Linked DNA regions of Homo sapiens. The protein of the gene in region 4 purifies or fractionates together with the protein of the main gene of each other region. This does not show direct contact. Each region holds a gene or a part of one and is shown on either strand. Other genes may lie near its edges. The genes, in order: MGAT1, TMEM214, PAM, ADPGK, PDIA5, GALNT7 and MIPEP.

Region 1 (3,500 bases), on a different chromosome or scaffold from region 4:
TAGGAAGAAGACAAGTGGTTGGTGGTGAATGCTGGCAGGGGCTGGTGAAGTCTCCCCAGGAGGGAGACAGAATCCATGTCTCTTTAGAGGCCCTTCAGGATCAGCCCTTTTATACCAGATCTGCTGGTTTGAGAGCCCAGAGCCTCAGAGGTTAGATCTGAGGCCCAAGGTTTTGGCCAGGATTAGAGAGTAGCCTGTGAGGCAGAGGGCAACTGGCAGAGCTGTTGGTGTAAGAGGGTGCACGCCTGAAGCTTTGGGGTGTAAAGGGTAGACCAGAGGCAGGACAGTCAAGGAGTTATGGTCTGGAGTGGCAGCTGGCTGGGAATTGGGGAGTGTTTCAGATCCTTTCAAGTAATGTGGTCTGGTAGAGCTTGGAGGATTGGTGGGACCATGCCTTTTTCTCACTGGTTTGTGTCCTGGTTCCTTCCCAGAGCCTGGCAGAGAGCAGGTGTGTGATACACGTCGTCAGGTGACTGACCGAGGAATTCAGGGCAAACAGATCATCTCAATTTGCCTTGCTGATGTGCCAGCTGGGATTACGCTGATGGATGAAGCTCTTCAGAGCTATGGGCAATATCTACATATTTGATTGTCAAGAAACTTCGTGTGGAAATAGCTTCAAACTTACACAAATTGCAAGAATAAAAAATAGTATAAGGATATTCGTACACACTCTCTTTACTCAGATTCACCTGTTAATATTTTGCTCCATTTGCTCTCTATGTGTGCAGAGTATGTTTTTGTTCTGAACCATTTGAGAAGTTGCATCTATCCTGGTCCTCTACTTCTCAATACTTCAGTGTGTATTACCTAAGAATTGGAATTAATCAGTTATCACTGATACTTTAACCTACTGTCCATATTCCACCTTTGTCATTTTACCCAATAACGTCTTTTTAAAAAAAGTTTTTTGAGGTTTCATTGACATACAATTGATATCAATATGTGCAAAGAACTGCATATAAAGTGTACAATTTGATAAGTTTTGACATATATGTGTGTGTGTGTATATATATATATATATATATACCTGTAAAAGTATCACCACAATCAAGATAATAAACATATCCACCCTTCTAGAAGCTTCCTAATGCCCCTGTGTAGTAACTACCCTACTGCCCTTCTCTGCCTCCATCCCCAGGCAACAACTGATCTGCTTTCTGTAATATAGATTAGTTTCTATTTTCGGCAGTTTTATGTCAATGGAATCACAGTGTATGTGCTCTTTTTTGTTTTTCCCAAAAAGACCCATATTGTGTAATTATTTGGAGATTGTGTTGTGTATGTCAGTGGTTTATTCAGTTTTATTGCTGAATATTATTCCATTCTATGAGTAAACCACAATTTGTTTATCTGTATTTCCCTGTTGATGGGCCTTTGGGTTATTTCCAGTTTTGAGTGATTATGAATAAAGTTACCATCAACACTCCTGTGTAGGTTTTTGTAGGGACATGGCTGAAAGTAGAAAGAAATGGGGCATGCAGGAGAGACTGGGCTTGGTTATAACAGCCTGTTATCCCTGGGGAACTAGCTCACTCACCAGAGGACGTTAGGAAGGATCTGCCCCTGCCCCCCTTGTGATCCAAACACCTACCACTAGACCCCACCTCCGGCAGCACCACCACACAGGGGATCAAATCCCAACATGTGTTTCAGAGAACAAACCATATTCAAGCTATAGCATAGCTACGTAATTATTATAACACTATTAATAAGACCATCTTTGCCTTGGGAATTTTAAGTAGCACCTTTATTACATATTAGATTTTTTTGTGTAATGAGTCTGTTTCTGGAGCTTAAATTCTATTTCACTGGATGGTCTGTTTATTTATGTACCAGTACCACGCAGTTGTAATTATGGAGGTTTTGTAGTATGCCATATATATATATATATAATAAAAAAAAATTTTTTTGAGACAGAGTCTCACTCTCTTGCCCAGGCTGGAGTGCAATGGCACAATCCAATCACAGCTCACTACAGCCTCAGCCTCCCAGACTCAGGTGATCCCATCTCAGCCTCCTGAGTAGCTGGGACCACAGGTGCGTGCCACCATGCCCAGCTTTTTTTTTTTTTTTTTTTAATTGTTACTTGTAGAGACAGGGTCTCCGTGTGCTGCCCAGGCTATTCTTGAACTCCTGGGCTCAAGTGATCCTCCTGTATTGGCCTCCCAAAGTGCTGGGATTGCAGGTAGGAGCTACTGCATCTGGCCAGTATGCAGTATTTTCATATCTGGTAGGGCTGAGTCCCTCCTCACAGCTTATTTTTATTGTTTTCCTAGTTTTTCATGTGAACTTTACTGTCAGTTCGTCTAGCTCCATAAAAAGGTATTTTTATTGGGATTTTTGATGATGCTGAAATGTCCTGACCAAGAACAAGGGATATTCAGATGTTCTTTTGTGTCTTTCAGGAATGATAGTTTTGTTCACATAAGTTTTGAATGTTTAAGTTTATTTAAGTTTATTTCTAAATATTTTCTCATTTCTCTGGCTTTTGTAAGTAGGGTTTTCTCATCCATGTTTTCTTCTCATGAGTTATTTGTGGATATGAAGGCTATCCATTAGTATATGTTGATTTTTATATTACACTTCCTTGCTCAGTTCATTATTGATTCTTTTTGAGTTTTCCAGGCATATTCTCACAAGTAAAGATAATAGAAATAGTTTGCTTCCTTTCCACTTCTGCTTTGAATTTTTTTTTCTTGGTTCATTTGCATTGGCTGCTTCCTCCAGCAAAATGTTAAATAACCCTGGAGATGATGGGCAACTTCGTTTTGCTCCTGACATTCGTGGGGTGCCTCTGGTGCTTCCCTGTTGGTAAGGGGTTAACTGTAGCCCTGAGGTGGGACATTTGATTTTAAAAATCAGTCATCTTGGGGCGCTTAGGTTAGAGGAATGGTAGGCAGATGCTGTCACTCCTTGCCCCTCCCCTCCTCCTTCCCACCTGGAGGGGAAATGAAATCTGACAGGTAGAAAGAGGGGAGTTGGGGTTCTTTTTCTCTCTCCCTCCACCAGCATCACTCTCTGCCTCTCCCTCAAAAATACGTTCCTGGGTCAGGATATATGTTGACTCCCTAGAGAGCTCTGGAGTCAACCTCCTGGCCTTCCTCCACCCTCACTCTTGGCCTTTTCCTGCCCCCATTTCCTCTACCTGTGGGGCATGGAGCCACGAGCCTTTGTGTGACGGTTTGCTTTCTCTCTCCTGTCTTTAGGTGCATGGCTGCCTCCTAATCCCATAGTCCAGAGGAGGCATCCCTAGGACTGCGGGCAAGGGAGCCGGGCAAGCCCAGGGCAGCCTTGAACCGTCCCCTGGCCTGCCCTCCCCGGTGGGGGCCAGGATGCTGAAGAAGCAGTCTGCAGGGCTTGTGCTGTGGGGCGCTATCCTCTTTGTGGCCTGGAATGCCCTGCTGCTCCTCTTCTTCTGGACGCGCCCAGCACCTGGCAGGCCACCCTCAGTCAGCGCTCTCGATGGCGACCCCGCCAGCCTCACCCGGGAAGTGATT
Region 2 (3,115 bases), on a different chromosome or scaffold from region 4:
CTCTAGTACTGCTGACTTGAAACATTTAAGGAAACAAAATTGAGAACTAAGAAACCAGCAGAGTTATCTAACTCCTTATAGTCTCAAGTCAAAAATAAAAAGGGGCTTCGGTGATAAACCTTGGACTCATGTGTCCCTTGGAGTTCTAAATCTTTCACTCACTGCTCTATAAAATGAAGGTCCTGGCAAGGAAAGGACACCTCCTGGTCACTGGCCAAGAATTCCCCTAGGAGACGGCCCCCTGCTTTTCTAAGCGTAAAACTATCAAGGCAAATCTGGGACGTGAATCACAGTGACAAGTCAGACACTATAATTAGGGTAGCAAGAGAAGTGTCTAGAACACCCACCAGGTCAAACTTTAGAACCATGTGTGTGGGCTTCCCCCACCAGGAGCTTAATTACAGCCACGGCTACAGTCTTCAGGAGGGCAAGGGCCCAGGATTTTGTTATTCTGAACCATAACTAGGGGAATTTCTATATGAGGATGCAGACAAGAATGCTAGAAATCAAATCTGTGTCCTTTATTCCACCTGGTAGGGCATACCCAAGAACCATATACTGAGTCCTGTCTCAGGTTGATGGAGGGTTCCCTGGGCCCAAGGCACACAACTGCCTGTGCTCTGCTCTACAGATGATAGGAGGGATGGACAGTGGAGAGAAGCTGAGCCTTGTGACCAAGACCCCCAGCATGATGGGGAATGGAAAGTTGGAAGAAGTAGGACTACAAGGGAGGGGACAGGGAGGGGCTTAGAGGCATTTGGGGCAGGCTGGGCATTTTGAAGTGAGAGGCATTTCCATCCAGCTCCCCATGTCCACTGACAGCCACACCCAGGCTTCAGGTGGAGGTGAGGCTGCTGTTTCCCAATGCGGTGCTATATTCTTCTGGAAGCCCCTTTCCTTCTGCTGTGGCTAGAGCTGTGACCAAGAATGGGAACAGGAGGCTGCTAAAGTCTGGAGAAGCAGGAATCATTTGTCAGAAGAACACAGAAGCCACCTGCTGGGAGTTCTATCTTTTTAGAGATGAGCTGTTTGGGGTTTAGAAATGAGATGGAAGGAAGTGGAAGGCAGAGGGCAAGGGCGGAGTTGTGAGAGGCTACCAGCACAAGGATGGAGGCTGGGGGCCATGTGCAGTAGGGCCAGAAAAGTGTTCAGTGGAATTGTGGGTAGGAGGCTGAGATGCTGCTGGGCCCTGTCCCCACCAAAGATGGAAGAACTGAGGTGGAGGCAACTGGCCACTTGCCTAGGAGAGAACTCAGGCACCAAGTTAAAAAGACTCCCATGAAGAACTGCCACCTTCTACCCGCTGCAGTCTTGGATGGTCTACCCATGCAGAAATCAGTGGCCAGGAAGGCAGGGCCTACTGCTGGGATATCAGGGCAAGTGCCCAGTCCAAGAAAGCCACTGTAATGTCCTGTAGGCAAAGCCAGGTCCAGTGGACAGCCTCACTGAGCTGTGTCTTCATGCAGTCCCAGGTCACCTCACCTCTGGAAGGAAAGTGGAACATTTTTGAGTATGCACGTGAGTAGCTGTGTCAACTTTCGGGGATGAAAGCTTAGACCCACAACCCTCATCCCAGGGTGGCCAGGAATGGGAGCGAGGGGCAGGACAGTGTGGGAGACTGGATAGAGATGGCTTGTCCCTGGGGCCCGGGAATGGGGCTGCTGGGGATCCTGCCGGAGCCCTGGGCAAAGGTCTCACCTGCATGCCTCATGGCAGTGCTCCTGGGCCCAGGCCAGGGCCTCAAGCAAGAGGTGCCACAGTGGCAGCAGCACATTCTGGTGGAAAAGCAGGGGCAGCTCTCTCAGATAGCGGAGTAGCTGATTCACGGAATCGGGGAGCTGGATCTGTAGCTGGACCATGGAGAATGGATGGGGTCAGAGTATCCAGGGAACTGCATCCTGGCCCTAAAGACTCAGGCCACACAGTGCTGCTCCTTTCCCAGAATTCTGCTCCTGGGAAAACCAGCCCCTTATTTGACTCCCTGTCTCTGACTTACCCTCTGAGAGAGACTGGTGAGACTGTCACCAAACCACGCAAGGTGAGAGGCACAGTGGGCAGAAAGGAAGCTGACTGTGGCATTGGTGTGAGCCCAGGCCAGCTGCAAGCTGGGCCGCACCACGGTGAGCAGGTGGGAGCCCCAGAGCGGCAGTGTCTCCCCCAGCCAGCTGTGGAAGATGGAAGTGGGGGAAGAGGGCTCTGAGTCTCCTCAGGCCCACTTAGCTCCCAAGAAACAGCTGGGGAAAGGGAGGCCGTGGGAAAGGAGAATCACAAGCGCTTCCCACTGACTGTCGCCTCCTCCCTGACACCCAGGCCTTCTCTCTTCTGCCTCTCCTCTCCCCTCCCTGGGAGGAGCTCACCTGTAGCCTTGCAGACTGTAGGAGTAGAGCTTGGCACACGCTTGTTGGCTAGCAGGTAAGAAGCCAGATGATCGAAGCAACCGGCCAGTAAGGGAGGCTAAGTAAAGGGGGCCTCTGGTGAGCTGGGAGGTGAGAGGGGCAGGGACTGGGGAGACAGACACTACAGGGCCCAGAGCAGGCACAGCGAGGCGCTGGGCAGAGCTTTGTGTTCTCACAGGGCCACAAAGCCAGCTCCAGGCTGCTGTGGAGGGAGGCATGCAGAGCTGCCCTTCTCCTGCTGGGCCAGGTGTGCAGGAATGCAGCTGCCGGTTGGAGCCTAGGCTCAGGCTTCAGGAAGCCTCAGGTTGAGGGTCTGCCCTTCTACTTACTAGCTATGACCTAAAGCTAATTGCTACATCTTTCTGAGACCATTTCCTCAGGAGTTAAAAGGAGGTAACACCTACTAAAATGATACTATGAATATGCAAGCACTTCTATACTGCGAAGTCCTAGTCCAATCTGAAATGGTAGTGTCATATCTGTGGACAAAAAAATCTGTCTGTAAAGTGTTTACTCTGCAGGATTGAGAACTCGTCAGGACAAAGATGTGTGCTGCTGGGGGCGGGGTGGTGGTGCTACGTGTAGCTCTGTGCCCCGCCCACACCATCCTCCTCGCTTGCCCATTGCTGCTTACCCTGGAAGGAGCTGTGTGACCGGAGGTCATGGCACAGGAAGCCTACAGCGAAGACCAGCAGCAACAGGAGGAGCCGCGTCCAGGG
Region 3 (3,500 bases), on a different chromosome or scaffold from region 4:
CTGTCCTTCCTTCACCAGTGAATACACATCTTGCAGCCAGTAGGTCACCAAAACTTACATCAACTGGATGCCCCACAGGGTAGAAAGCCTACCAAAAAGACAAACACAATGAATCATTAATATTACCAATAAAATCCAGAACTACATGTTTGACTGTGTTGAGGTATGTTCCTCCTTTACCCCTTTTTTGAGGGTTTAATCATGAAGGGATGTTGAATTTTATCAAATGCTTTTTCAGCATCCATTCAACTGATCAGAGGATTTTTGACCTTAATTCTATTGATATATCACAGAACCCCATGCTTTAATAATGTGAAGCTTGGTACACTCTGGGTAGAGAGGATGAAGACAGACAGTGAAATAGACACACACACACACACACACACACCCACCCACATACACAAATAATCACTGGATAAAAACAGTTCACCTTTAATCATCGGATAAAAACAGTTCACCTTTAATTAATAACTTCTACTTTATGACAAGAGCACCAAACTTTGAAATAAACAAAAAAATACTATTAGCAAATGCATCCCATAAAAATCAGAATAAATGTGATAATAGAAGAGCTGTCTGAAATACTGTCTTTGAATAAATGATGGGATGTGAAAGGCCACCAACATGGTTTGACCATATTGAGAAAACTGACAAAGAAAGCAACAAATTGGAAGTTGCAAAAAGGAGGTTATACAGCTCAGTTATACAGTTAAGGCAGATTTAGAGATTTTTAGAGAAATTCACAAGAGTTGCATAATAATTTTTAAAAATTACTTTCTGCTGGTTAATATTTTTTTCTCTCAAAATTAAACTAGATTTTACCCACCTGTGGCAGCTGAGGGCTCTGCCGTCCAATCAGTGTCCACTGTCCATTTCTTACTCTGTATCCACTTACTACCTTACCTGTAATAAACACAAATTTTAATCATTTAATATAATAAGGTATTAGAAAAACAAAAGGCATATTTACTTTCCTACTTTAAAGTAGAAATCTGAGTATTTTCAGAGCTGCAAAGACTGAGTATCTTAAAAAAACAATATGATAAAACAGCATAAAATATTTCAAGGTCTTATATGAAATCACTTTCATTGAAACAGACTTAAGGTCAAACACAATTTGCATTTTAATTTATGGCACCAGGAAGCACAATGGTAAATATTTATAATTTAACATGTAAAGTTCTTACCTAAATGGTGAGTGTGAACTCTATAGGCAAAGACATGCATTGGATAATTTTTATAATGGCATGAAATGTCAGAATTCACCACTGTGGGAAATGAAAACACAGACAAAAGTCACTATTCAACTGGAAAATGACATTATTCTTATCTAAAATTATGCATAGGGTATTCACAAGATGCTAGGGACTGAGGTTTTCTTATGACTTAAATACACAGATATTAAGCACTTATTCTGTGCCAGCCACTTTACTCACATGAATTAAGAACCCCTTGCCTTATATTTTTATTTTATTCATAAACAGAATGACTAGAACCAAATCAAAATACTCTGTTAGTGAAAACATAGGCTTAATTTGTTACCTTTAGCTTGAAATTTATCCAGTTGAGAAAGCTTAAAAATTGGTTTTTATTTTTGGAATGAAAGAATTTTTGAAAAATTGAATGCAGACACCTAACATCACTACATTGACAGTTCCTGTTGAGAAGAGGCCATTTCATACTGTTCCTTCCTTATAGTCTAACACAGTAGCTATTCAATAAATATTCATTTTATAATAGATGAAAAAATGGTAACAAAGAGACCATACTGGTCATTAACTTTAAGAGATTCCCAGCGAAAACAAATGAACAATATTTCATATGGCACTTTCATCAGAGGATCGTAAAATATATTGATAAATAATAATATACTTATTCTCATCGCTTCTAGTAAGCTTGGGAGAATCAGCTATTATCATCCCCATTTTGCAAGTAGAGAAGTAAGCCAACTATATCCAAGTTTAAAGACTAAGTTGGTGCTGGATTTGCTAGTCGTTTAATTTTTAAATCTTTCTATGTAGAAGTTTATGTCACTGCTCATTATGCAGTGTGTCCTCTGCATCTCAAGAATGGATGATTTATTTTTAAATACTCAAGATTTATTCTTTAATTTATATAATACACACCTACACAAGGGCCTCAATTCCTAGCATCTCAATAAAGAATGGAAAAGTAATAAACCACTGGCTTGGAATAATACAAAAATCTATTTTAAATCCAAGGACAATAAAGTATTGGTTCATTTTTCCAAGACATAAAAATATTGATTATTTTTAAAGTTTATAAAAAATACAGTATAAATCCATTTCTACAGATTAGGTAATGAGGTAATGGTAAATATTAAAAAATCATTACTCACCTTTTTCTCCTGCTGGGATAACAGTGTCAACAGACATCATAAGGTACATGCCAGCAATTAAAGGCTGTCTGCAGAAAAAAATAACATTTTTCTAAAATACCTGAAAAAGTCAAAATGACTGTTTTGGAAAAACAGCATATACCTCAATACTTTGGTTTATAAAATGTGATGCTTTTGAAAATTGAAGTAGAAAAAGAGGAAAAATTTTTCTTCCTTAAAAAATACTTTTTCATGTGAAGGCAGACTCTAAATGGTTCCTGTGATAGCTAACTTTACGTGTTGACTTGGCCAGGTGCCTGGTTGTTTGGTCAAACACCAGTCTAGGTGTTGCTGGGTAGGTGATTTTTAAATGTGATTAACCTTTAAATTAAACTTTGAGTAAAGCAGATTATTTTCCATAGTGCGGGTGGGCTTCATCCAGTCCATTGAAAGTCTGAAGAGAAAAGACTAAGGTCCCCTCAAAAGGAAAGGATTCTGCCTGTGAATTGCCTTTGGACTCAAGAATGCAACATCAACCCTTCCTTGAATTTCCAATTGGCTCAATGGATTTAGGACTTAATCAGTCCCCACAATAGTGTCAGCCAATCCCTTACAACAACTCTTTCTCTTTCTCTCTATTCTATTGGTTCAGGTTTCTTTGGAGAACCCTGACTAATCAGCTCTCATGATTCCTAGCTGTGACATTCATGCCCTGGTCTAATCCCCTGCCCTTTAATGTGGGCTAAAAGAAGTGTAGTAACATCTTTTTAAACATTTTTAACATTTTTTTTATTTCCATAGATTTTTGGGGAACAGGTGGTATTTGGTTACCTAAGTTCTTTAGTGGTGATTTCTGAGATTTTGGTGCACCCATCACCCAAACAGTATACACTGAACTCAATTAGTAGCCTTTTATCCCTCACCTCCTTCCCATCCTTTACCCTGGGAAGTCCTCAAAGTCCACTGTATCATTCTTATGCCTTTGCATTCTCACAGCTTAGTTCCCACTTATGAGTGAGAACATACAATGTTTGGTTTTCCATTCCTGAGTTACTCGGTAACTTATCTTTAACAAATAGAATATGGCAAAAGTGATGGTATGCCATTTTGAACATTAGGTTACTGAAAGACTCTGGCTTCCATCTTGCATGCATGCCCTCTC
Region 4 (3,500 bases):
GTCTCTTCCTCTGGAGCTCCTTGCTTTGTCCCTCCATCATGTGCAATCCAGAGAGGACCACCAGGTCTGGCTGAAACTCCTCCAGGCTAGACACAAACACCTCCAGCATATTCATGGCCCCGTTGGAGAGGTCGTGAGAGAAGATGAATCGGTTGGCATGGGGAGCTTTTAACTGGCCCCACTCCTCCCCTGGAAAAACCCAGTCAACACAATGGGAAGAAAAGGAAGAGGCTTTAGGTCTCCTAGCTGTGGGGGCACTTTCAGGCACCTCACAGGAGCCTTGGCTCCAAGCAGGCTGGTTTCTGGCTGAGGAGACCCCAGCAACAATGGCCTAAGGTCAGCATGGCACTGCAAGAAACAAACCAAAAACCTAAACCCAAACCCAGCCAAGAAACAGAAACATAGTATGGGTGCTATATGCCTTTTTCAAGGTAATTAGCTCCCCCTGAGTCCCAGGAGAGCCCTACTTGAGCTCTCAAACACAGGAGAGACAGTACAGAATGGCAGCATGACTTCCAAATACCAGCATACAGTGTGCAGCACGCACGCCCTGCAGACAGTATAGGCTGTCATTGTTTAAAGCACATTCTTCCTCACAGCATTGCCCTGAGCATCTTTCATTCAGTTGGAACTTAAGCAGGCTGAATTTCTTCCCAACAGCCAAGCTCACTGCATCTCCTCTTCCCTGCTGCCCATCAGTGGTTTCTGGGCACCTGATCCAAAGGATCAGACTATCTAGCTGCTCCAGTTGCTTCTATGTGAGTTGCTTTAGAGGAATGACTGTTTAAAGACCCAAGTTCAAGTGCTAGTTCCTCCCTAAACATGAAGCCTTTCCTAATCCTACCACCCCTAAGCAGACTTGATTACCTCCTTTCTGGGGCCACCACTGTACCCTAATACAGGACTGAGGCACATGATTTTGCAATTCCTTTTTCTTTTTTCCTTTTTTTTTTTTTTTTTTCTTCTGAGATGGAGTTTCACTCTGTTGCCCAGGTTGGAGCGCAATGGCGCGACCTCAGCTCACTGCAACCTCTGCCTCCCAGGTTCAAGCGATTCTCCTGCCTCAGCCTCCCGAGTAGCTGGGATTACAGGTACCCGCCACCACGCCTGGCTAATTTTTGTATTTTCAGTAGAGACGGAGTTTCACCATGTTGGCCAGGCTGGTCTTAAACTCCTGACCTCAGGTGATCTGCCTGCCTTAGCCTCCCAAAGTGCTGGGATTACAGGCGTGAGCCACCATGCCCGGCCTGCAATTACTTTTTCCAAGTGTCTATCTCTGGCAGTAAACTGTGAGCTGAGGGCAGGGCCTGTGTCATCCTCTGTCGTATTCCTTCTGCATCATGCTGTGTCTGGCATATAGCCATGGGAATGAATTAACAAAAGAACAAGCAAATAAGAGAACAGACTGATGACCTAAATGCCCATGACAACAAAAAATATGGGTATGAACCCCAAATCCAACATTTTGCAAATCAACAAAGACTCTGTACGATGGGAAAAATACATTACATTGACATTCTCCAGAGAGCAAGACGTGGACTCAACCCTTGAATAGTGACACTGCTAGGAAACACGACCTAACTGAACCTAGGAGAAAGGAGCCACACTGTATTGAAAATACACTGATTTCTTCAGGAAGTGACAGAGGCAAAAATAAACAGGCTCTTCTGCAAGGCAAGGATGAGAAGAACCGTGCAGAGCTGCTTGCTGTTTCCACAGGAAACAAGGCAGCAGATGCCAAGAGAGGCTGGAACCTGAAGAAAACCACCAGCTGAGATCTGTGAAATTCTGTAACAGTGCCATTACCTCCAAGAGTCTCTTCCTCTGGAGCTCCTTGCTTTGTCCCTCCATCATGTGCAATCCAGAAAGGACCACCAGGTCTGGCTGAAACTCCTCCAGGCTAGACACAAACACCTCCAGCATATTCATGGCCCCGTTGGAGAGGCCATGCAGGGGGCAGATGCAAATGGATCTAATTCTGCCTGTAATGGTAGTTAGCGCCCCTCTTTCCTCACAAAGTGTTGTATTCATTCCTGTAAGCAATCTCTTCTCAATGTATCATCCTGCCCTCAGCCAGTAAGTCAGCAAAACCTCTGCGTAGTGACTCACTGGATTCCCAGCCCAAGCCTGACAATGGGCTTCTCTGGGGAGATCTGGTAAGAGAGAATGTGGAAAAAAAAATGGACAAATCCCTTGGAATTTCCCTATTGAGGTCAGAGACAAGCTGGGAATGGATTTCTGTTGAGAGAGCTGAGCCCAGGGCTACTGCCACTAGACTAGGCTCCCTCCTTGGACCTAGGAAAATGTCACCTCACAAAGTTTAATGGAAGTCCACTGCTTTGTATGCAGAAGAGGCATAGGAAAGAAAAACTGAAGTGTGAAGCTTATAAACCCAAGGATGGAGACACTCTCTTTGTGCGGTGAACTGTGCTGTCTCCTTAACTACATACGAGGCACAGCTGTCCAATACAACATCAAAGTCTTGCTGAAGACGTAAGACTCTCCACTCTGTAGTCACCAGGAAAAATGACAAACCAGGAATCACAAAGGTCCCCAGTTCCTGCTGTGGGTGCCAAAAAAACTGACACGAATCTGGAACTCATGGCAGCAATACCTCAGGGGCTCATCTTTAGCAATTCCAGACCCTTCCAGTCCACAGTCAGGTCATTCTTTTATTTATTTATTATTATTATTTTTTGAGACGGAGTCTCGCTCTGTTGCCCAGACTGGAGTGCAGTGGTGCAATCTCAGTTCACTGCAACCTCCGCCTCCCAGGCTCAAGCAATTCTCTGCCTCAGCCTACTGAGTAGCTGGGATTATAGGCGCCCGCCTCCACACCTGGCTAATTTTTGTATTTTTAGTAGAGACGGGGTTTCACCATCTTGGCCAGGCTGGTCTTGAACTCCTGACCTTGTGATCCACCCGCTTCAGCCTCACAAAGTTCTGGGATTACAGGCATGAGCCACCACGTGCGGCCAGGTCATCTTTTCATCCAAGCTGCTCACAATGTTTCCGCACACCAACCAATCTCTTAATCCTTACCACAATGATCAGGCAGTAAAAACTATTACTCTTACTTCCCATTTGGGAAAACTAAAGCTGAGAAACTCAAAAACTTGTGTAGCATTAAGTATGAATTGCCTACGTCAACGCTGTGTCCCTAATTTTCAGACCCTATCCTTCTTTAATTCCCAACTGATTCTAGTAAGCACCCGAAAGAGAACCAGAACATGTTACAACTCTTTTTTCTACCTGGAGAAAGGCATAATTCTCAAGAAATAACATAGTTCATATCTTATGTTAAAGTTAATTACTCTAGTAGAGAAGATTCTCTTAATTGACTTGGAAGTAGTTCACTGAAGAGTATTAAGTGCTGCTTTAAGGTACCAATTAGTCTGTTTAGATGCTTGAGTCTTTAATGTGTATTAACAATGTGTTGAATCAGAAACTCAAGAGTCTGAGTTCTGAGCAGAGGGAAAATTACAGCAGGAAATACACAG
Region 5 (3,500 bases), on a different chromosome or scaffold from region 4:
TTCTGGCTGTCAGTGACCCGCTGGGCATTCCTGAACAAGGGACACAGCTCCTCTCTGGGCCTGGATCCCTCACGAGTAAAGGGAGAGGGGACAGGCCAACAGTCCCCACACACCAGCCTGTGGCCAGCACAAGAGCCAGCTCTTAAAAACCACAAATTTCCAGCACCATCCCCCAGAGACTCTGATCTGATAGTTGTAGGATGGGACCCAGTAGTCACAGTGCCATGCCTGGAGCACAGAGTGGGCACCAGTAAGTTCAGCCCCCCAGGCCAGATGGCTGGCTTCCCTGATGTCATGAATATAACCTCCAGGAAACCCAGGCAGGCCACCTGCCTCAGACAGAGAGGTTATGAAGTGCATTCCTGAATGCAAGTGAGGGTGATCCCTGGCTTGGAATAAAGGAAGCTGAAAGGAGAGACAGAGGGAATAAGAGACAGGAGGACTGAACCCAGGAAAAGGCCACAACACCACTGGCCCAAGACAATCAAGCAAAGGTGTGTCAGTGTCTAAGCGGAGGGGAGCATCAAGGAAATGGGCCCCCATGTAGCAGTGCAGGGGGAATGGGAAGAGAAGACGTGGGCTCTCAGCTGCCCGCTGGAGGCCTGGCAAGTCTGGCCTCACCTGCACTGATGTGGGTCAGGCCACAGGACAGCCTCAGCGGCGGTCTAGTGGGCAGAAAGGGGCCACGTCAATGGGGCTGCCCCTTCAGGGTTTCCCCAGCCCCCTCGGTGCCTCAGCTGGACCACGCTCCCTGACACCATGCTCCCCAGCATGGCTGGGAGGGCAAGCCCAGGATCTGTCTGCCAGTCATGCCTCAGGACCCTCACAGATCTCCTGGGGCCTATGGAGACCTGAGTGTCCAGTGGGACAGGGAGATGGCACACCTCAGCCTTTCTCCTGCTGCCCAGAGCACCCAGCATTCTGGGTGGCACGTGATGGACGTCAATACAGAGTGGCAGCTATTCCGGTCCTGTGGACTGGCAGCCCAGGCCATGCTGGATATCGTGGGACCACCAAGCAGGAGCAACTACCCTGTGCTGTGCACAAGTGGGTGGGAACAATGAGGGACATGGACACGGGAAGGAAGCCCCTGCTGCCATACCCCACTCAGTGCAGGGAAAGGGGCAGGCAGAGGAGAAAACGCTTCTGGTCCTTGTACTCCCTTCTGGTGGGGGTGAGGGGTGCCTCAAAGCCGCAGCCAGGGCTTTCGGGTAACAATGGGACCTCCTGACTCCAGAGAGAGTCCTGGGCTCTGGGTCTAAGTGAGAATCAGGTTCCCAGTTCATCCCCACTCTGCCTGCATGGGCCTGTCCCCAGCCTGGCTTCCTTTGGCTTTATGTCCCTGTAAAGTTCTCATTACCCCATCTCTGCCACTGTCTCTGGGCCTGTTAAGGTGATCCTAGCACCTGTATCTCTGCTCCCACAAGGTCTGGATGGTACCTTTAGGCCTGACCTCCTGTTGGCCTTGATCAAAACTTCAAACCCTGCCCACCCGGCCCTGGGATGGTCATCTGTCTCTGCTTGTGAGGGCTGCTCCACTAATACCTGCTCCCCTTTCCTGCCTCGGCTGAACTTCCGTCTAGGCCTGCTTGGCCTGTTTATCATCTAGGACTCTATGCTCAGCTTATGCCTGGCCTTGGTTCCTTCCAGCCTGCCCTGGCCCCACCTGGGATTCCACCCAGGAAAGTAAGGCACCCCTGCACGTGACTCTGGGTTTGGGTGTGTGTGAATGCAGATCCCACGTGACTGCCAGCTTCTAGGGCCTGTTAGGCCAGAGGTTCCCATGACTGAGTCTCAGGGCTGGGAGGAATGTTTGCAGTCCTCTGCACCAGTGCTCCGCCTGGCATGGATGAGAAGGGAACTCAAAGGCTGGCAGTCAATCACACTTCCCCGAATTCAGGGGTATTTCCCTGCCCCACAAGCCCTCTCCCAGCAGAAGCCCCCACTGCACCAGCTGCCTGGGGGATGTGCCTGGGGGACGCGCCTGGAGGCCCTGCACTCTAATCCAATCTGCAGCTCTAGCTTGTTAATTTTATGCTTCATCAGTCGGCAGCTGCAGGAGCCTTTCACTTAGGCAGGGCGAGGCTCCACTGACATGGCCTTGCTCTCCTCCACCATGGCATCCTCCAGTTGACTTTTGTTGGATTTTTAAATTTGTATTTTTAATTATATAAGTAATGCATGATGACAATCCTACAGTAAAAAGGTTCAAACACTAAAAAAGTAAATAGATGACCCCTTTAACCATCCCTCTCCTCCAAGTAAGTGCTGGAATGGTTCAGCATATCCCTTTTAGTTGATTTTGCAGCATAAATCCAGCCTGCCCTATCTTCCTTCTAAAGAGAATGTCCTGGTTCCCAAGGAATTTCCTGCTTACAGGTCTTAGCAGACCTGCCCCTGTTTGGGGAAGGACCTGAATGACAAGAAGGAAGGTGTAGGAATTAGCTGCAGGCAGATCAAGAGATGAAGAGCGCTGTCCTTACCTTTCGGTCATCTTTGAAGGCATCAGCAGTAGCAGTAAAGTGCGGAATGACCTTCTTACAGTGTGGGCACCCTGTGTGAGAGGGGAAGAGAGCACACAGGACTGTGATGCATGTGCAGGGAGGCTGCAGGGCCAGGGACCCTTCCTGAAAGCTCCAGAGAGGGCTCTCCAGGAGCTCCCCACTGCCCGCCACACTGTCAGGGTCCTTTTGTCAACCTTGCCACTCTAACCACCTCCCACCCATGTCTGATCTATTGGTAGGGGGGACTGGTAGGAGTCCCTGTCACAAGCATCATATGCTCCTGCCCAGGCTGGGGGGCGATGGTCACTGTAGTCTAGTTCTGCTCCTTCCACAGAGGACGAGGAACAGCCTGATCTTGGGGGCAGAGGGAGCTTTGGGCTTAAAGAGGAAGGCACGGGATTCTCAGAGCCGCTACAATCTTCTCTTGCTCCAGGGACAATAGCAAATCTCTCCATTTCCTGACTGAGAGGAAGTGGCGTTGGGAAATGCAGGGTGGGGGGATTTTGGGGCAACTACTCTGCACCCACTGCTCATGATTTGCTGCTAACTTCTGCATTCCTAGCAACCTCCACCCAGCCCAGACTGTGAGCAGCCAAATCAGGCCCTGGTCCCCAGGTCTCCATCTACTCTTTGCTCTACAATAACCAGAACCTCAAAGCCAGGAACAGGAAGGCCATGGTCAGGGTAAGAGGGAGAGGAGCTACGGGAAGTCACCAGGCAGTCCTCAGGTCCCTTGATGCTCCCTGTCCCAGGGAGAAGGCTTGTCAGAGCAGCCTAAGGCCTTTGAGCTATACTGGGGCCCCTACCTCCAGCATCTGTCTCTTGTTCTGGGCATCACCCTGAGCCCCAACTCTGACCTCAGTGTCTCAGAAGCAGGGTAGGGACCTCTGTGGGGGCCACTTTCTCCTCCTGTCCTGGTGAGCCCAGGAGCTGCAGGCTGATCCAGCCCTTCCCTCAGCACTAACAGATCAGAACCCAAACCCCCCTCCTCTCTCA
Region 6 (3,500 bases), on a different chromosome or scaffold from region 4:
GTTTATTTGTAACAACCACCCTCTATTGCAAGTCCGATGGAATCCCAACTTTATAGATGAGACTGTTGTGGTATAGAGAGGTGAACTCTTTGTCCAAGTTTATTCACTTAATTAATTGTAGAGCCAGGATTCAATCTCAGGTGTTCTAACTTCAGAGCTGTGCTCTCTGATCTTGCACTACAGTTTTTAACAACACAGACAAGTACACATGGGCTACATTAAAAGGTGGATATGTAGACGCTAGCTGGGTAATTTCAGATAAACACTGAAGACAATATAGATGGTCCCTGACTTACCATGATTCAGCTTACGATTTTTGACTTTTCAATGGGTTTATCGGTGTGTAACCCTGTCATAAGTCTGAGCACATCTGGACTTAAGATGTCTTATGATTCTTCAAGTTTACAGTGGGTTTGTTGCAGGGTGTAACCCCTTGTAAGTCGAGGAACATCTGTACATGGTAATATGAAAGAGAATGGGAGGCTGGTGCGGTGGTTCATGCTTGTAATCCCAGCGCTTTGGGAGGCCTAGGCAGGCGAATCACTTGAGGTCCGGAGTTTGAGACCAGCCTGGCCAACATGGTGAAACCCTGTCTCTACTAAAAATACAAAAATTAGCCAGGCATGGTAGCACACCCCTGTAATCCCAGCTACTCAGGAGGCTGAGGCAGGATAATTGCTTGAAGCCAGGAGGCGGAGGTTGCAGTAAGTGGAGCTCGCGCCACTACACTCAAGCCTGGGCAACAAAACGAGACTCCATCTCAAAAAAAAAAAATTAAAAACAAAAAGAAAGAGAATGGGTTGGAAGGGACCACTCAGGGAATGTCAGGGAAGGTGATGGCCAGAGCAGAGTCTTCAGGAGTAAGTGTAAGACTATCATGCAAATCTGGCGGAAAAGCATTCCAGGCAGAGGGAACAGAAGTGCAAAATTCCTGAGGTTGGAATGAGGCTGGAGTATTTGAAGCCAGTATGGCCGGAGTTTGTTGAGTTTGGAGGTAGTACAGTACGGGATGAGCTTGAAGATGTAGTCAGGACTCAGATGATGGGGGTGTGTGGCTCTTGTGGTCTGTTATTAGGGTGATTATTTGTTTTAGTTTACATTTGCTGCCCATTAGCCATTATTATCCTTTCACTCTCAGAAGTGTCCTGGGTTGGATGGTAAATTATATGGATGTCTTGCTTAAAGTGTATTTTCCTAGATAAATAAAATGAGTAATAACCCTTTTTGGCCACAGTTTGTGGGCCAGATGCACAAGTAAACAATTGTGCTGGGTAAGACAAAAACTGTATTAGTTAAGTCCACTGAGTCCTGTGGGAGCACAGAGAAAGGAGCATCTAGTGTATGGGACTGGATGCTGTCAGAGAGCTTGTCTTATAAAAAGAGATGCTGGAGAGATGAGGACAGAGGAGACTGTGCAACAGCATAAATAACTGTGACCAATCCTGGGGACTACATGGCTGAAAATTGGGTTGGAGAGGGGTGGAATGGAAGAGAGGACTCTAGAAAGATAAATAGAATCTGAGCCATGAAAGACTTTGAATGGTCAGAGCTGGGCTATAAGGAATAATCTGGAAACAGTGCAAGCTAGATTTTAGTGAGGAGAGAATTATGTCCGAAGGATATAATGAAGCTTAAACTAAGGAGAAGGACCTAGAAACTGAATACAGAGGAAGAGATTATGGAAGTATAATAGAATTGCCCAGTGGGAGGAGGAATCATTCTTGATGGTAAAGGAAAGGATGTTGATGCCTTTAGAAGGAATACAGCTGTCCAAAGCACTGGCTCTCAAACTTCTTTAGGCTTCGGAGTCACCTAGAGGGTGTGAGAAAACGGATTACTTGGCCCCATCCCCCGAATTTCTGATTGAGTAGATTTAGGGTAGAGCAGATAATTTGCATTTCTAACTAGTTCCCCGGGGATGCTGATGCTGCTGGTCCAGGGATCATGCTTTGAGGAGTGCCAGTCTAGAGGTTATATAGATTTGGGGGCTGCAAAATGAAAATGAAAAATTTGGTTTGGTTTGGCATATAGTATTTTATAGAACACAGGTCAGTCAAGTGAAGGTGTCTTAACCAGGTCGATGGAGCTCAGAATGGAATCAGAAGTGGATGCATTTCATTGGCCAGAGGGTGGTGTCTGAAGCACAGGGAGTGGGTTGGTAAGTTAAAGGAGCCTGTGTGGATGGAGGAGAAAAATGTGTGTATTAAGAAGAAACATGGAAAATGCCTTCTTTTAGGCTCTAGGAGGTTGGTGGGGAGAGATGAAAGAAGGCATAGACAGAAGTAAAATGACTTAGACGATATTGCCTAACCGTGAGCAAAAATAATTTCTTTAAGGACAGGGCCATCAACAAATTCAGATGTTAAAATGTTTGAGAACTGATTAGAATGAAAGCTGAAACGAGTGGCTGTGGAAGCATTACCTGCCTGCTAACCTAACCAGTAGTACTTTGGTCTAGAGAGGGACTACAGCAGCATCATCATTAGCATCTCAGTAAATATTGTGGCCCAGAAAAACTGGTTCAGATGATAAAGAAGTTCAGGTCGTGAAGAGTCATCTTCACTATGGGAAAAATACAAATAGAGAAAAAGTTTTATTAGAGAACTGTAACTATCAAAGAGGAACTTAACCCATTTTTGGTTATATCTGGGCTACCATAACTTTATGTGCCTTTCCACCTCTCCCTATCCGCAAGTCTGTGTGTGTGTGTGTGTGTGTGTGTGTGTGTGTGTGTGTGTGTGTGCGCGCACGCGCGTGCGCACAGACACCTATGTATATATATTTTAGTTGTGATCATATATAATACTATATAAGATAGATATTGCAACACATATTAGTCTTTTTTTACTCATGTCTGAAATCTGGTGATTTGAAAAGCTGTGACTAGAAAACCAATTTAATATTTAAAGTTGGAAAATAAATTTTATTCTGAGAACATGAGGCAATTTTTAGTTTTTAGTACATTAATTTGACTGAAGGATATTAAAAAAACAATAGCAAAACTATGCTATTCTCAGCGTAGAGAAAATGTATGCTCAGCATTTCAATACTCTTAGTTTTTAAAAATGAGGTTTATCATTAAATTATAGTTCAGCCCTGTGATCCTGAAAGCAACACTGAGACAACATGAACTGCAGTCACCTAGGGCCTATGTCTTTTTGGAAAGGGAAGAGCTAACTTTCAGTTGCTTAATTTGCTAAGAATCCTGAATATTTCCAAATGAGAAATGTTCTCATTTCTGCACCATTATAAATTCCCTTCTGGGCTTCCCAGCCTTGGAAGCATTTTCAGGCATCACTCCCAAGAAGCATTTAAACATGCCGACAGGGAGACCTGATTCACTTCACTGAATACAAGAACTGGTACACTGAAACTTGAGGAAAAATTTAACTTTACATTATCTAATTAGGTTTATAGAATTGGTGCAGAGCAGCCTGGTTTCCCAAATCTAGAAGGTACGATTAACTATAGTATTATATCAATACCAACTAGTCTGCGAA
Region 7 (3,500 bases), on a different chromosome or scaffold from region 4:
TATTTTTAACTTTACATGAAAAGAATGGTGTCAGCTTGTACCACACACATGCCCAGAAGCTGAACAGCATAACCTACCAGGAACAGTGTAACCATCCTTCCTTCCTTCTTTCCTTCCCTTCTTTCTTTCTTTCCCTTATTTTGGAGACAGGGTCTCACTCTGTCACCCAGCACCCAGGCTGGAATGCAGTGGCACAATCACAGCTCACTGCAGCCTCAATCTTCTGGGCTCAAGTGATCCTTCCACCTCAGCCTCCCAAGCAGTTGGGACTACAGGCATACACCACCACGCCCAGCTAATTTTTAAATTTAAAAACACTGTAAGGGAGAGCTCAGGACACAGGCTTCAGAGCCACCCAACTGGGATGCAAGACTGGCCTTGTTACTGCTGTGGGACCTTGGACACGTTATTTAGACTTTAGGCTGCCGTGAGGATTAAATGAGATCATGTGTGCAGCACACATTTCCTATGTGAATGAACCATGGCCACTGTTGAGCAGTTGTGCCATCCAGAGAGCAAAGGGCCCAATGCTGGGCAGTGGTCCCAACCCACCCCATAGTACCACTAGCAGGAACCCAGTCCTCTTCCCTAAATGCAAATGCCATGGCCCCCTCAAAACTAAATAGTGAGCTGGGTCTAGATACAATCTGCACCCTGCTGGGTAGGTCTTCAAGGAGGGATAAGGTTGTAAGAACCACTCACCAGTCGCTACTCAGAGACTCAAGGATACTCCTGTTCCTCAGTTGGTTCACAAAAAAACACTTAAGATTTATATGAATCGAAGGGTTTCTGCTACCATTCTCATGGGCCTTCCCAAATACTAGTGAAACGTAGATAGTCATTACCCATCAAAAAAACACTCACCAAGAAGGGCCAGACTCCCACACACGGATCCCAGAAGTCAGGGAGAGAGTGAGTGTGGAGGCCTACCTCCTCCCAACCTGCTCACCCACGGAGCCACTCCATGGCAAAGGAACAGTAGCTCAGAGGCTGCCCGCACTGCCCCCACTGCAGAGGTTTAAGGAAATCTCCCAGTAGTATGTTTTATGTTGGAAGACCCTGAGATAAAGCCCATACTTCAGTCTGTATTTGTCCTCCGACAAAATGAAGAGTGCTTGTCCATGAGACCAGCCCACGTCTAATTCGGCAGGACACAGCATGCAGAGAGCCTCGAGCAGGCAGCCCACTGCTGACTCCTTCCCAGGGGCCTTTCCCCGAGAGGCAAAGCTTTCTCCCAGGGAGTCCCCACTTTCAGCCCTGTCAGCATGCCCAGTATCTGCACTCTGCAGGGCCCCGTTCTGTCCCATTACGCAAGTTGGTTTTCAGCGGCTATGGGAAAAGTCACACACGATTGTGCCAAAGTGAACAAATGTTGGCGACCTGGGGAAAAGCAGCAGCTGCACATCTTGAAGTGTTGGGTCTTCCAAGGAAGCCTCGTCTAACCAGAGAAGCCATCACTCTCCTCCTCCAACAATTTCTGGCATATGAAATTGTCTTATCGTGTTACCCCCTTTTCCCTGTTGTAAATCCACGCTGGCGAGCCCAGGGCTCTCCCTAGCTCTATACACTGCCTGGCATGGTGCCATGCAGCTAAGTGTGTTGGAATACAGCGCTGTCCACCATTCAGTTATTTTAACAAGCATTATGGAGCTCTTATAAGTGGCTTAAAAATACTCACATTTACCCCAAAATCACTTTAAAATAATTCACTCTATCACAGCCTCAGCCAGAGCATGCTCCAGCCCTCCCACAGACTTTTACAGCCTCCCTAGACTCCCCTAATTCCAACTCAACAGGGACCACAAGGACACTGTTTATAGAGCATTTTGGCTTCTCGCCCCGTGGCCCACAGCCATTGATGCAACAGCAATTTAATCAAGCGATAATCTAGTAAGTCCAACTTGCCACTAGGACACTAAAAAGCCCTTATTTAAGGTAAGTGATAATGGTGATGACAAGAATCCTGGGTGTCTGTCATCTCAGATTATCAAGTGACACCTTTACATTGATCTCATTTAACACTCACAAGGACCCTGAGGCAGGGTTAACTTTTCGACCCCATTTACAGACAAGGAAATGACTGAGAGAACAGACAACCAGCCCTAAGGCCCAGTGCCTGCCTGCGAGGTGAGCCAATGGCCTGTCCTGAGCCCTCCCTCCGGCCACCCCTGGTCACACACACCTCCCACCCTGCTGGGTGAGGGACAAGCGCTATGGACAAAACTGCCTACGGCACAAGTCCATGAAACCGGATCACCCAGGACTTGGCATGGAGGTGGGGAGGGGAACAGCACATACTTCTCTACCATGGTGCCAATACTTCTACAAGCTTCTTCCGCAGCTTCTCTGAATGCTGGCTCAGGGTGAGCGATTTTCACAAAATCAGCCTAATAAAGGGGAAAGACAAAACCAAAAGGGAATTTGATGAGAAGCTTTCTTCCAGGATCTGAGGGTGAAAATGAAAACTGGGTTTTAAGATGTGCCATTGGCTTGCCCTATGCATTTCCATTACTGACTTTTTCCTAAGCGAGTAAAGCAAAGCAGCTTCTTTCTGAACATTTAATTCTGTTATTCCTTGAAACCAAGTTTGTTTCACTCCAAAAAAAGACTTTTATTATTTCAGAAAAGTTTTTCTCTTTCAAATATAAACACCAAGCAAATTCTTTCTTTCTTTTTTTTTTTTTTTTGAGACGGAGTCTTGCTCCGTCGCCCAGGCTGGAGTGCATTGGCGCAATCTCAGGTCACTGCAAGCTCCGCCTCTCGGGTTCACGCCATTCTCCTGTCTCAGCCTCCCACGTAGCTGTGACTACAGGTGCCCACCACCACGCCCTCTAATTCTTTATTTCAAAAGAGCAGACACTGGTTTCAAATATTCTACAACTTTCTGGCTAAAATTCTTTGCAGTATGGTTTTCACATGTTAACTTATCTCCAGAAAACAACTCTTAAAGGCTTTTTTTTTTAACTGACACATAGTATAGTTTCAAAACCCATTTAACTACATTCTAGTCTTTGATTTAACTACATGGTAGTCTTTGTGCAGAAAACAAAGGCACGGTCTCTTCATAGTCCTTTCAATAAAATATGAGTTCGTAGTCTCCATGTAATACTGTATACAGCTACTACTGCTGCTGCTACTTAAGTCATTAGACATTAAAATGAGTGACAGTTCTTTTTTAAAAAGATAAAATGATGTAAAACTAAATTTTTGTTTTCATGTCAACTGTAACAAAAAGCAGAGAAACTACAAAACACTACATATTTTATTTGCCAAGAAAATGTGACTATAACATGAAATAAAATCACCACAAGATAAAATTTCTTAATTTTATTATCAAATAGTTTTTAATGCCAAAACATTTAAATCCATAGTTTGGTATATTTGTTGTAACAATTGGTAACGATAAAATAACATTAGTACCAAAGTACCTGAAAAATGAGTTATGTAAATTTACAACATTTTTTTTTTACAAATTACTAATCTACGGGTTGTGAATTTAT

Evidence for each region.
Region 1: the proteins of ADPGK (region 4) and MGAT1 purify together in Homo sapiens (affinity purification with mass spectrometry; 2 studies listed by BioGRID and IntAct, with this or other methods). This does not show direct contact.
Region 2: the proteins of ADPGK (region 4) and TMEM214 purify together in Homo sapiens (affinity purification with mass spectrometry; 2 studies listed by BioGRID and IntAct, with this or other methods). This does not show direct contact.
Region 3: the proteins of ADPGK (region 4) and PAM purify together in Homo sapiens (affinity purification with mass spectrometry; one large-scale study listed by BioGRID and IntAct). This does not show direct contact.
Region 5: the proteins of ADPGK (region 4) and PDIA5 purify together in Homo sapiens (affinity purification with mass spectrometry; 2 studies listed by BioGRID and IntAct, with this or other methods). This does not show direct contact.
Region 6: the proteins of ADPGK (region 4) and GALNT7 purify together in Homo sapiens (affinity purification with mass spectrometry; 2 studies listed by BioGRID and IntAct, with this or other methods). This does not show direct contact.
Region 7: the proteins of ADPGK (region 4) and MIPEP purify together in Homo sapiens (affinity purification with mass spectrometry; 2 studies listed by BioGRID and IntAct, with this or other methods). This does not show direct contact.

Annotation. Positions count from the first base shown.
Region 1 is NC_000005.10:180,792,807-180,796,306, reverse strand, and holds part of MGAT1 (alpha-1,3-mannosyl-glycoprotein 2-beta-N-acetylglucosaminyltransferase), read left to right. Parts: intron 1-431; exon of another isoform or gene 432-1,426; intron 1,427-1,940; exon of another isoform or gene 1,941-2,040; intron 2,041-3,209; 5' UTR 3,210-3,335; coding exon 3,336-3,500. UniProt on the Homo sapiens protein: Initiates complex N-linked carbohydrate formation. Essential for the conversion of high-mannose to hybrid and complex N-glycans.
Region 2 is NC_000002.12:27,039,080-27,042,194, reverse strand, and holds the end of TMEM214 (transmembrane protein 214), read right to left. Parts: coding exon 3,031-3,115; intron 2,455-3,030; coding exon 2,358-2,454; intron 2,166-2,357; coding exon 1,997-2,165; intron 1,851-1,996; coding exon 1,699-1,850; intron 1,485-1,698; coding exon 1,358-1,484; 3' UTR 501-1,357; downstream 1-500. UniProt on the Homo sapiens protein: Critical mediator, in cooperation with CASP4, of endoplasmic reticulum-stress induced apoptosis. Required or the activation of CASP4 following endoplasmic reticulum stress.
Region 3 is NC_000005.10:102,947,305-102,950,804, reverse strand, and holds part of PAM (peptidyl-glycine alpha-amidating monooxygenase isoform e preproprotein), read right to left. Parts: intron 2,428-3,500; coding exon 2,360-2,427; intron 1,269-2,359; coding exon 1,188-1,268; intron 904-1,187; coding exon 827-903; intron 89-826; coding exon 1-88. UniProt on the Homo sapiens protein: Bifunctional enzyme that catalyzes amidation of the C-terminus of proteins. Alpha-amidation is present at the C-terminus of many endocrine hormones and neuropeptides and is required for their activity.
Region 4 is NC_000015.10:72,756,259-72,759,758, forward strand, and holds part of ADPGK (ADP-dependent glucokinase isoform 4 precursor), read right to left. Parts: intron 2,032-3,500; coding exon of another isoform or gene 1,807-2,031; intron 190-1,806; coding exon 1-189. UniProt on the Homo sapiens protein: Catalyzes the phosphorylation of D-glucose to D-glucose 6-phosphate using ADP as the phosphate donor. GDP and CDP can replace ADP, but with reduced efficiency.
Region 5 is NC_000003.12:123,154,025-123,157,524, reverse strand, and holds part of PDIA5 (protein disulfide-isomerase A5 precursor), read right to left. Parts: intron 2,555-3,500; coding exon 2,484-2,554; intron 1-2,483.
Region 6 is NC_000004.12:173,175,311-173,178,810, forward strand, and holds part of GALNT7 (N-acetylgalactosaminyltransferase 7), read left to right. Parts: intron 1-3,500. UniProt on the Homo sapiens protein: Glycopeptide transferase involved in O-linked oligosaccharide biosynthesis, which catalyzes the transfer of an N-acetyl-D-galactosamine residue to an already glycosylated peptide.
Region 7 is NC_000013.11:23,879,401-23,882,900, forward strand, and holds part of MIPEP (mitochondrial intermediate peptidase), read right to left. Parts: intron 2,388-3,500; coding exon 2,299-2,387; intron 1-2,298. UniProt on the Homo sapiens protein: Cleaves proteins, imported into the mitochondrion, to their mature size.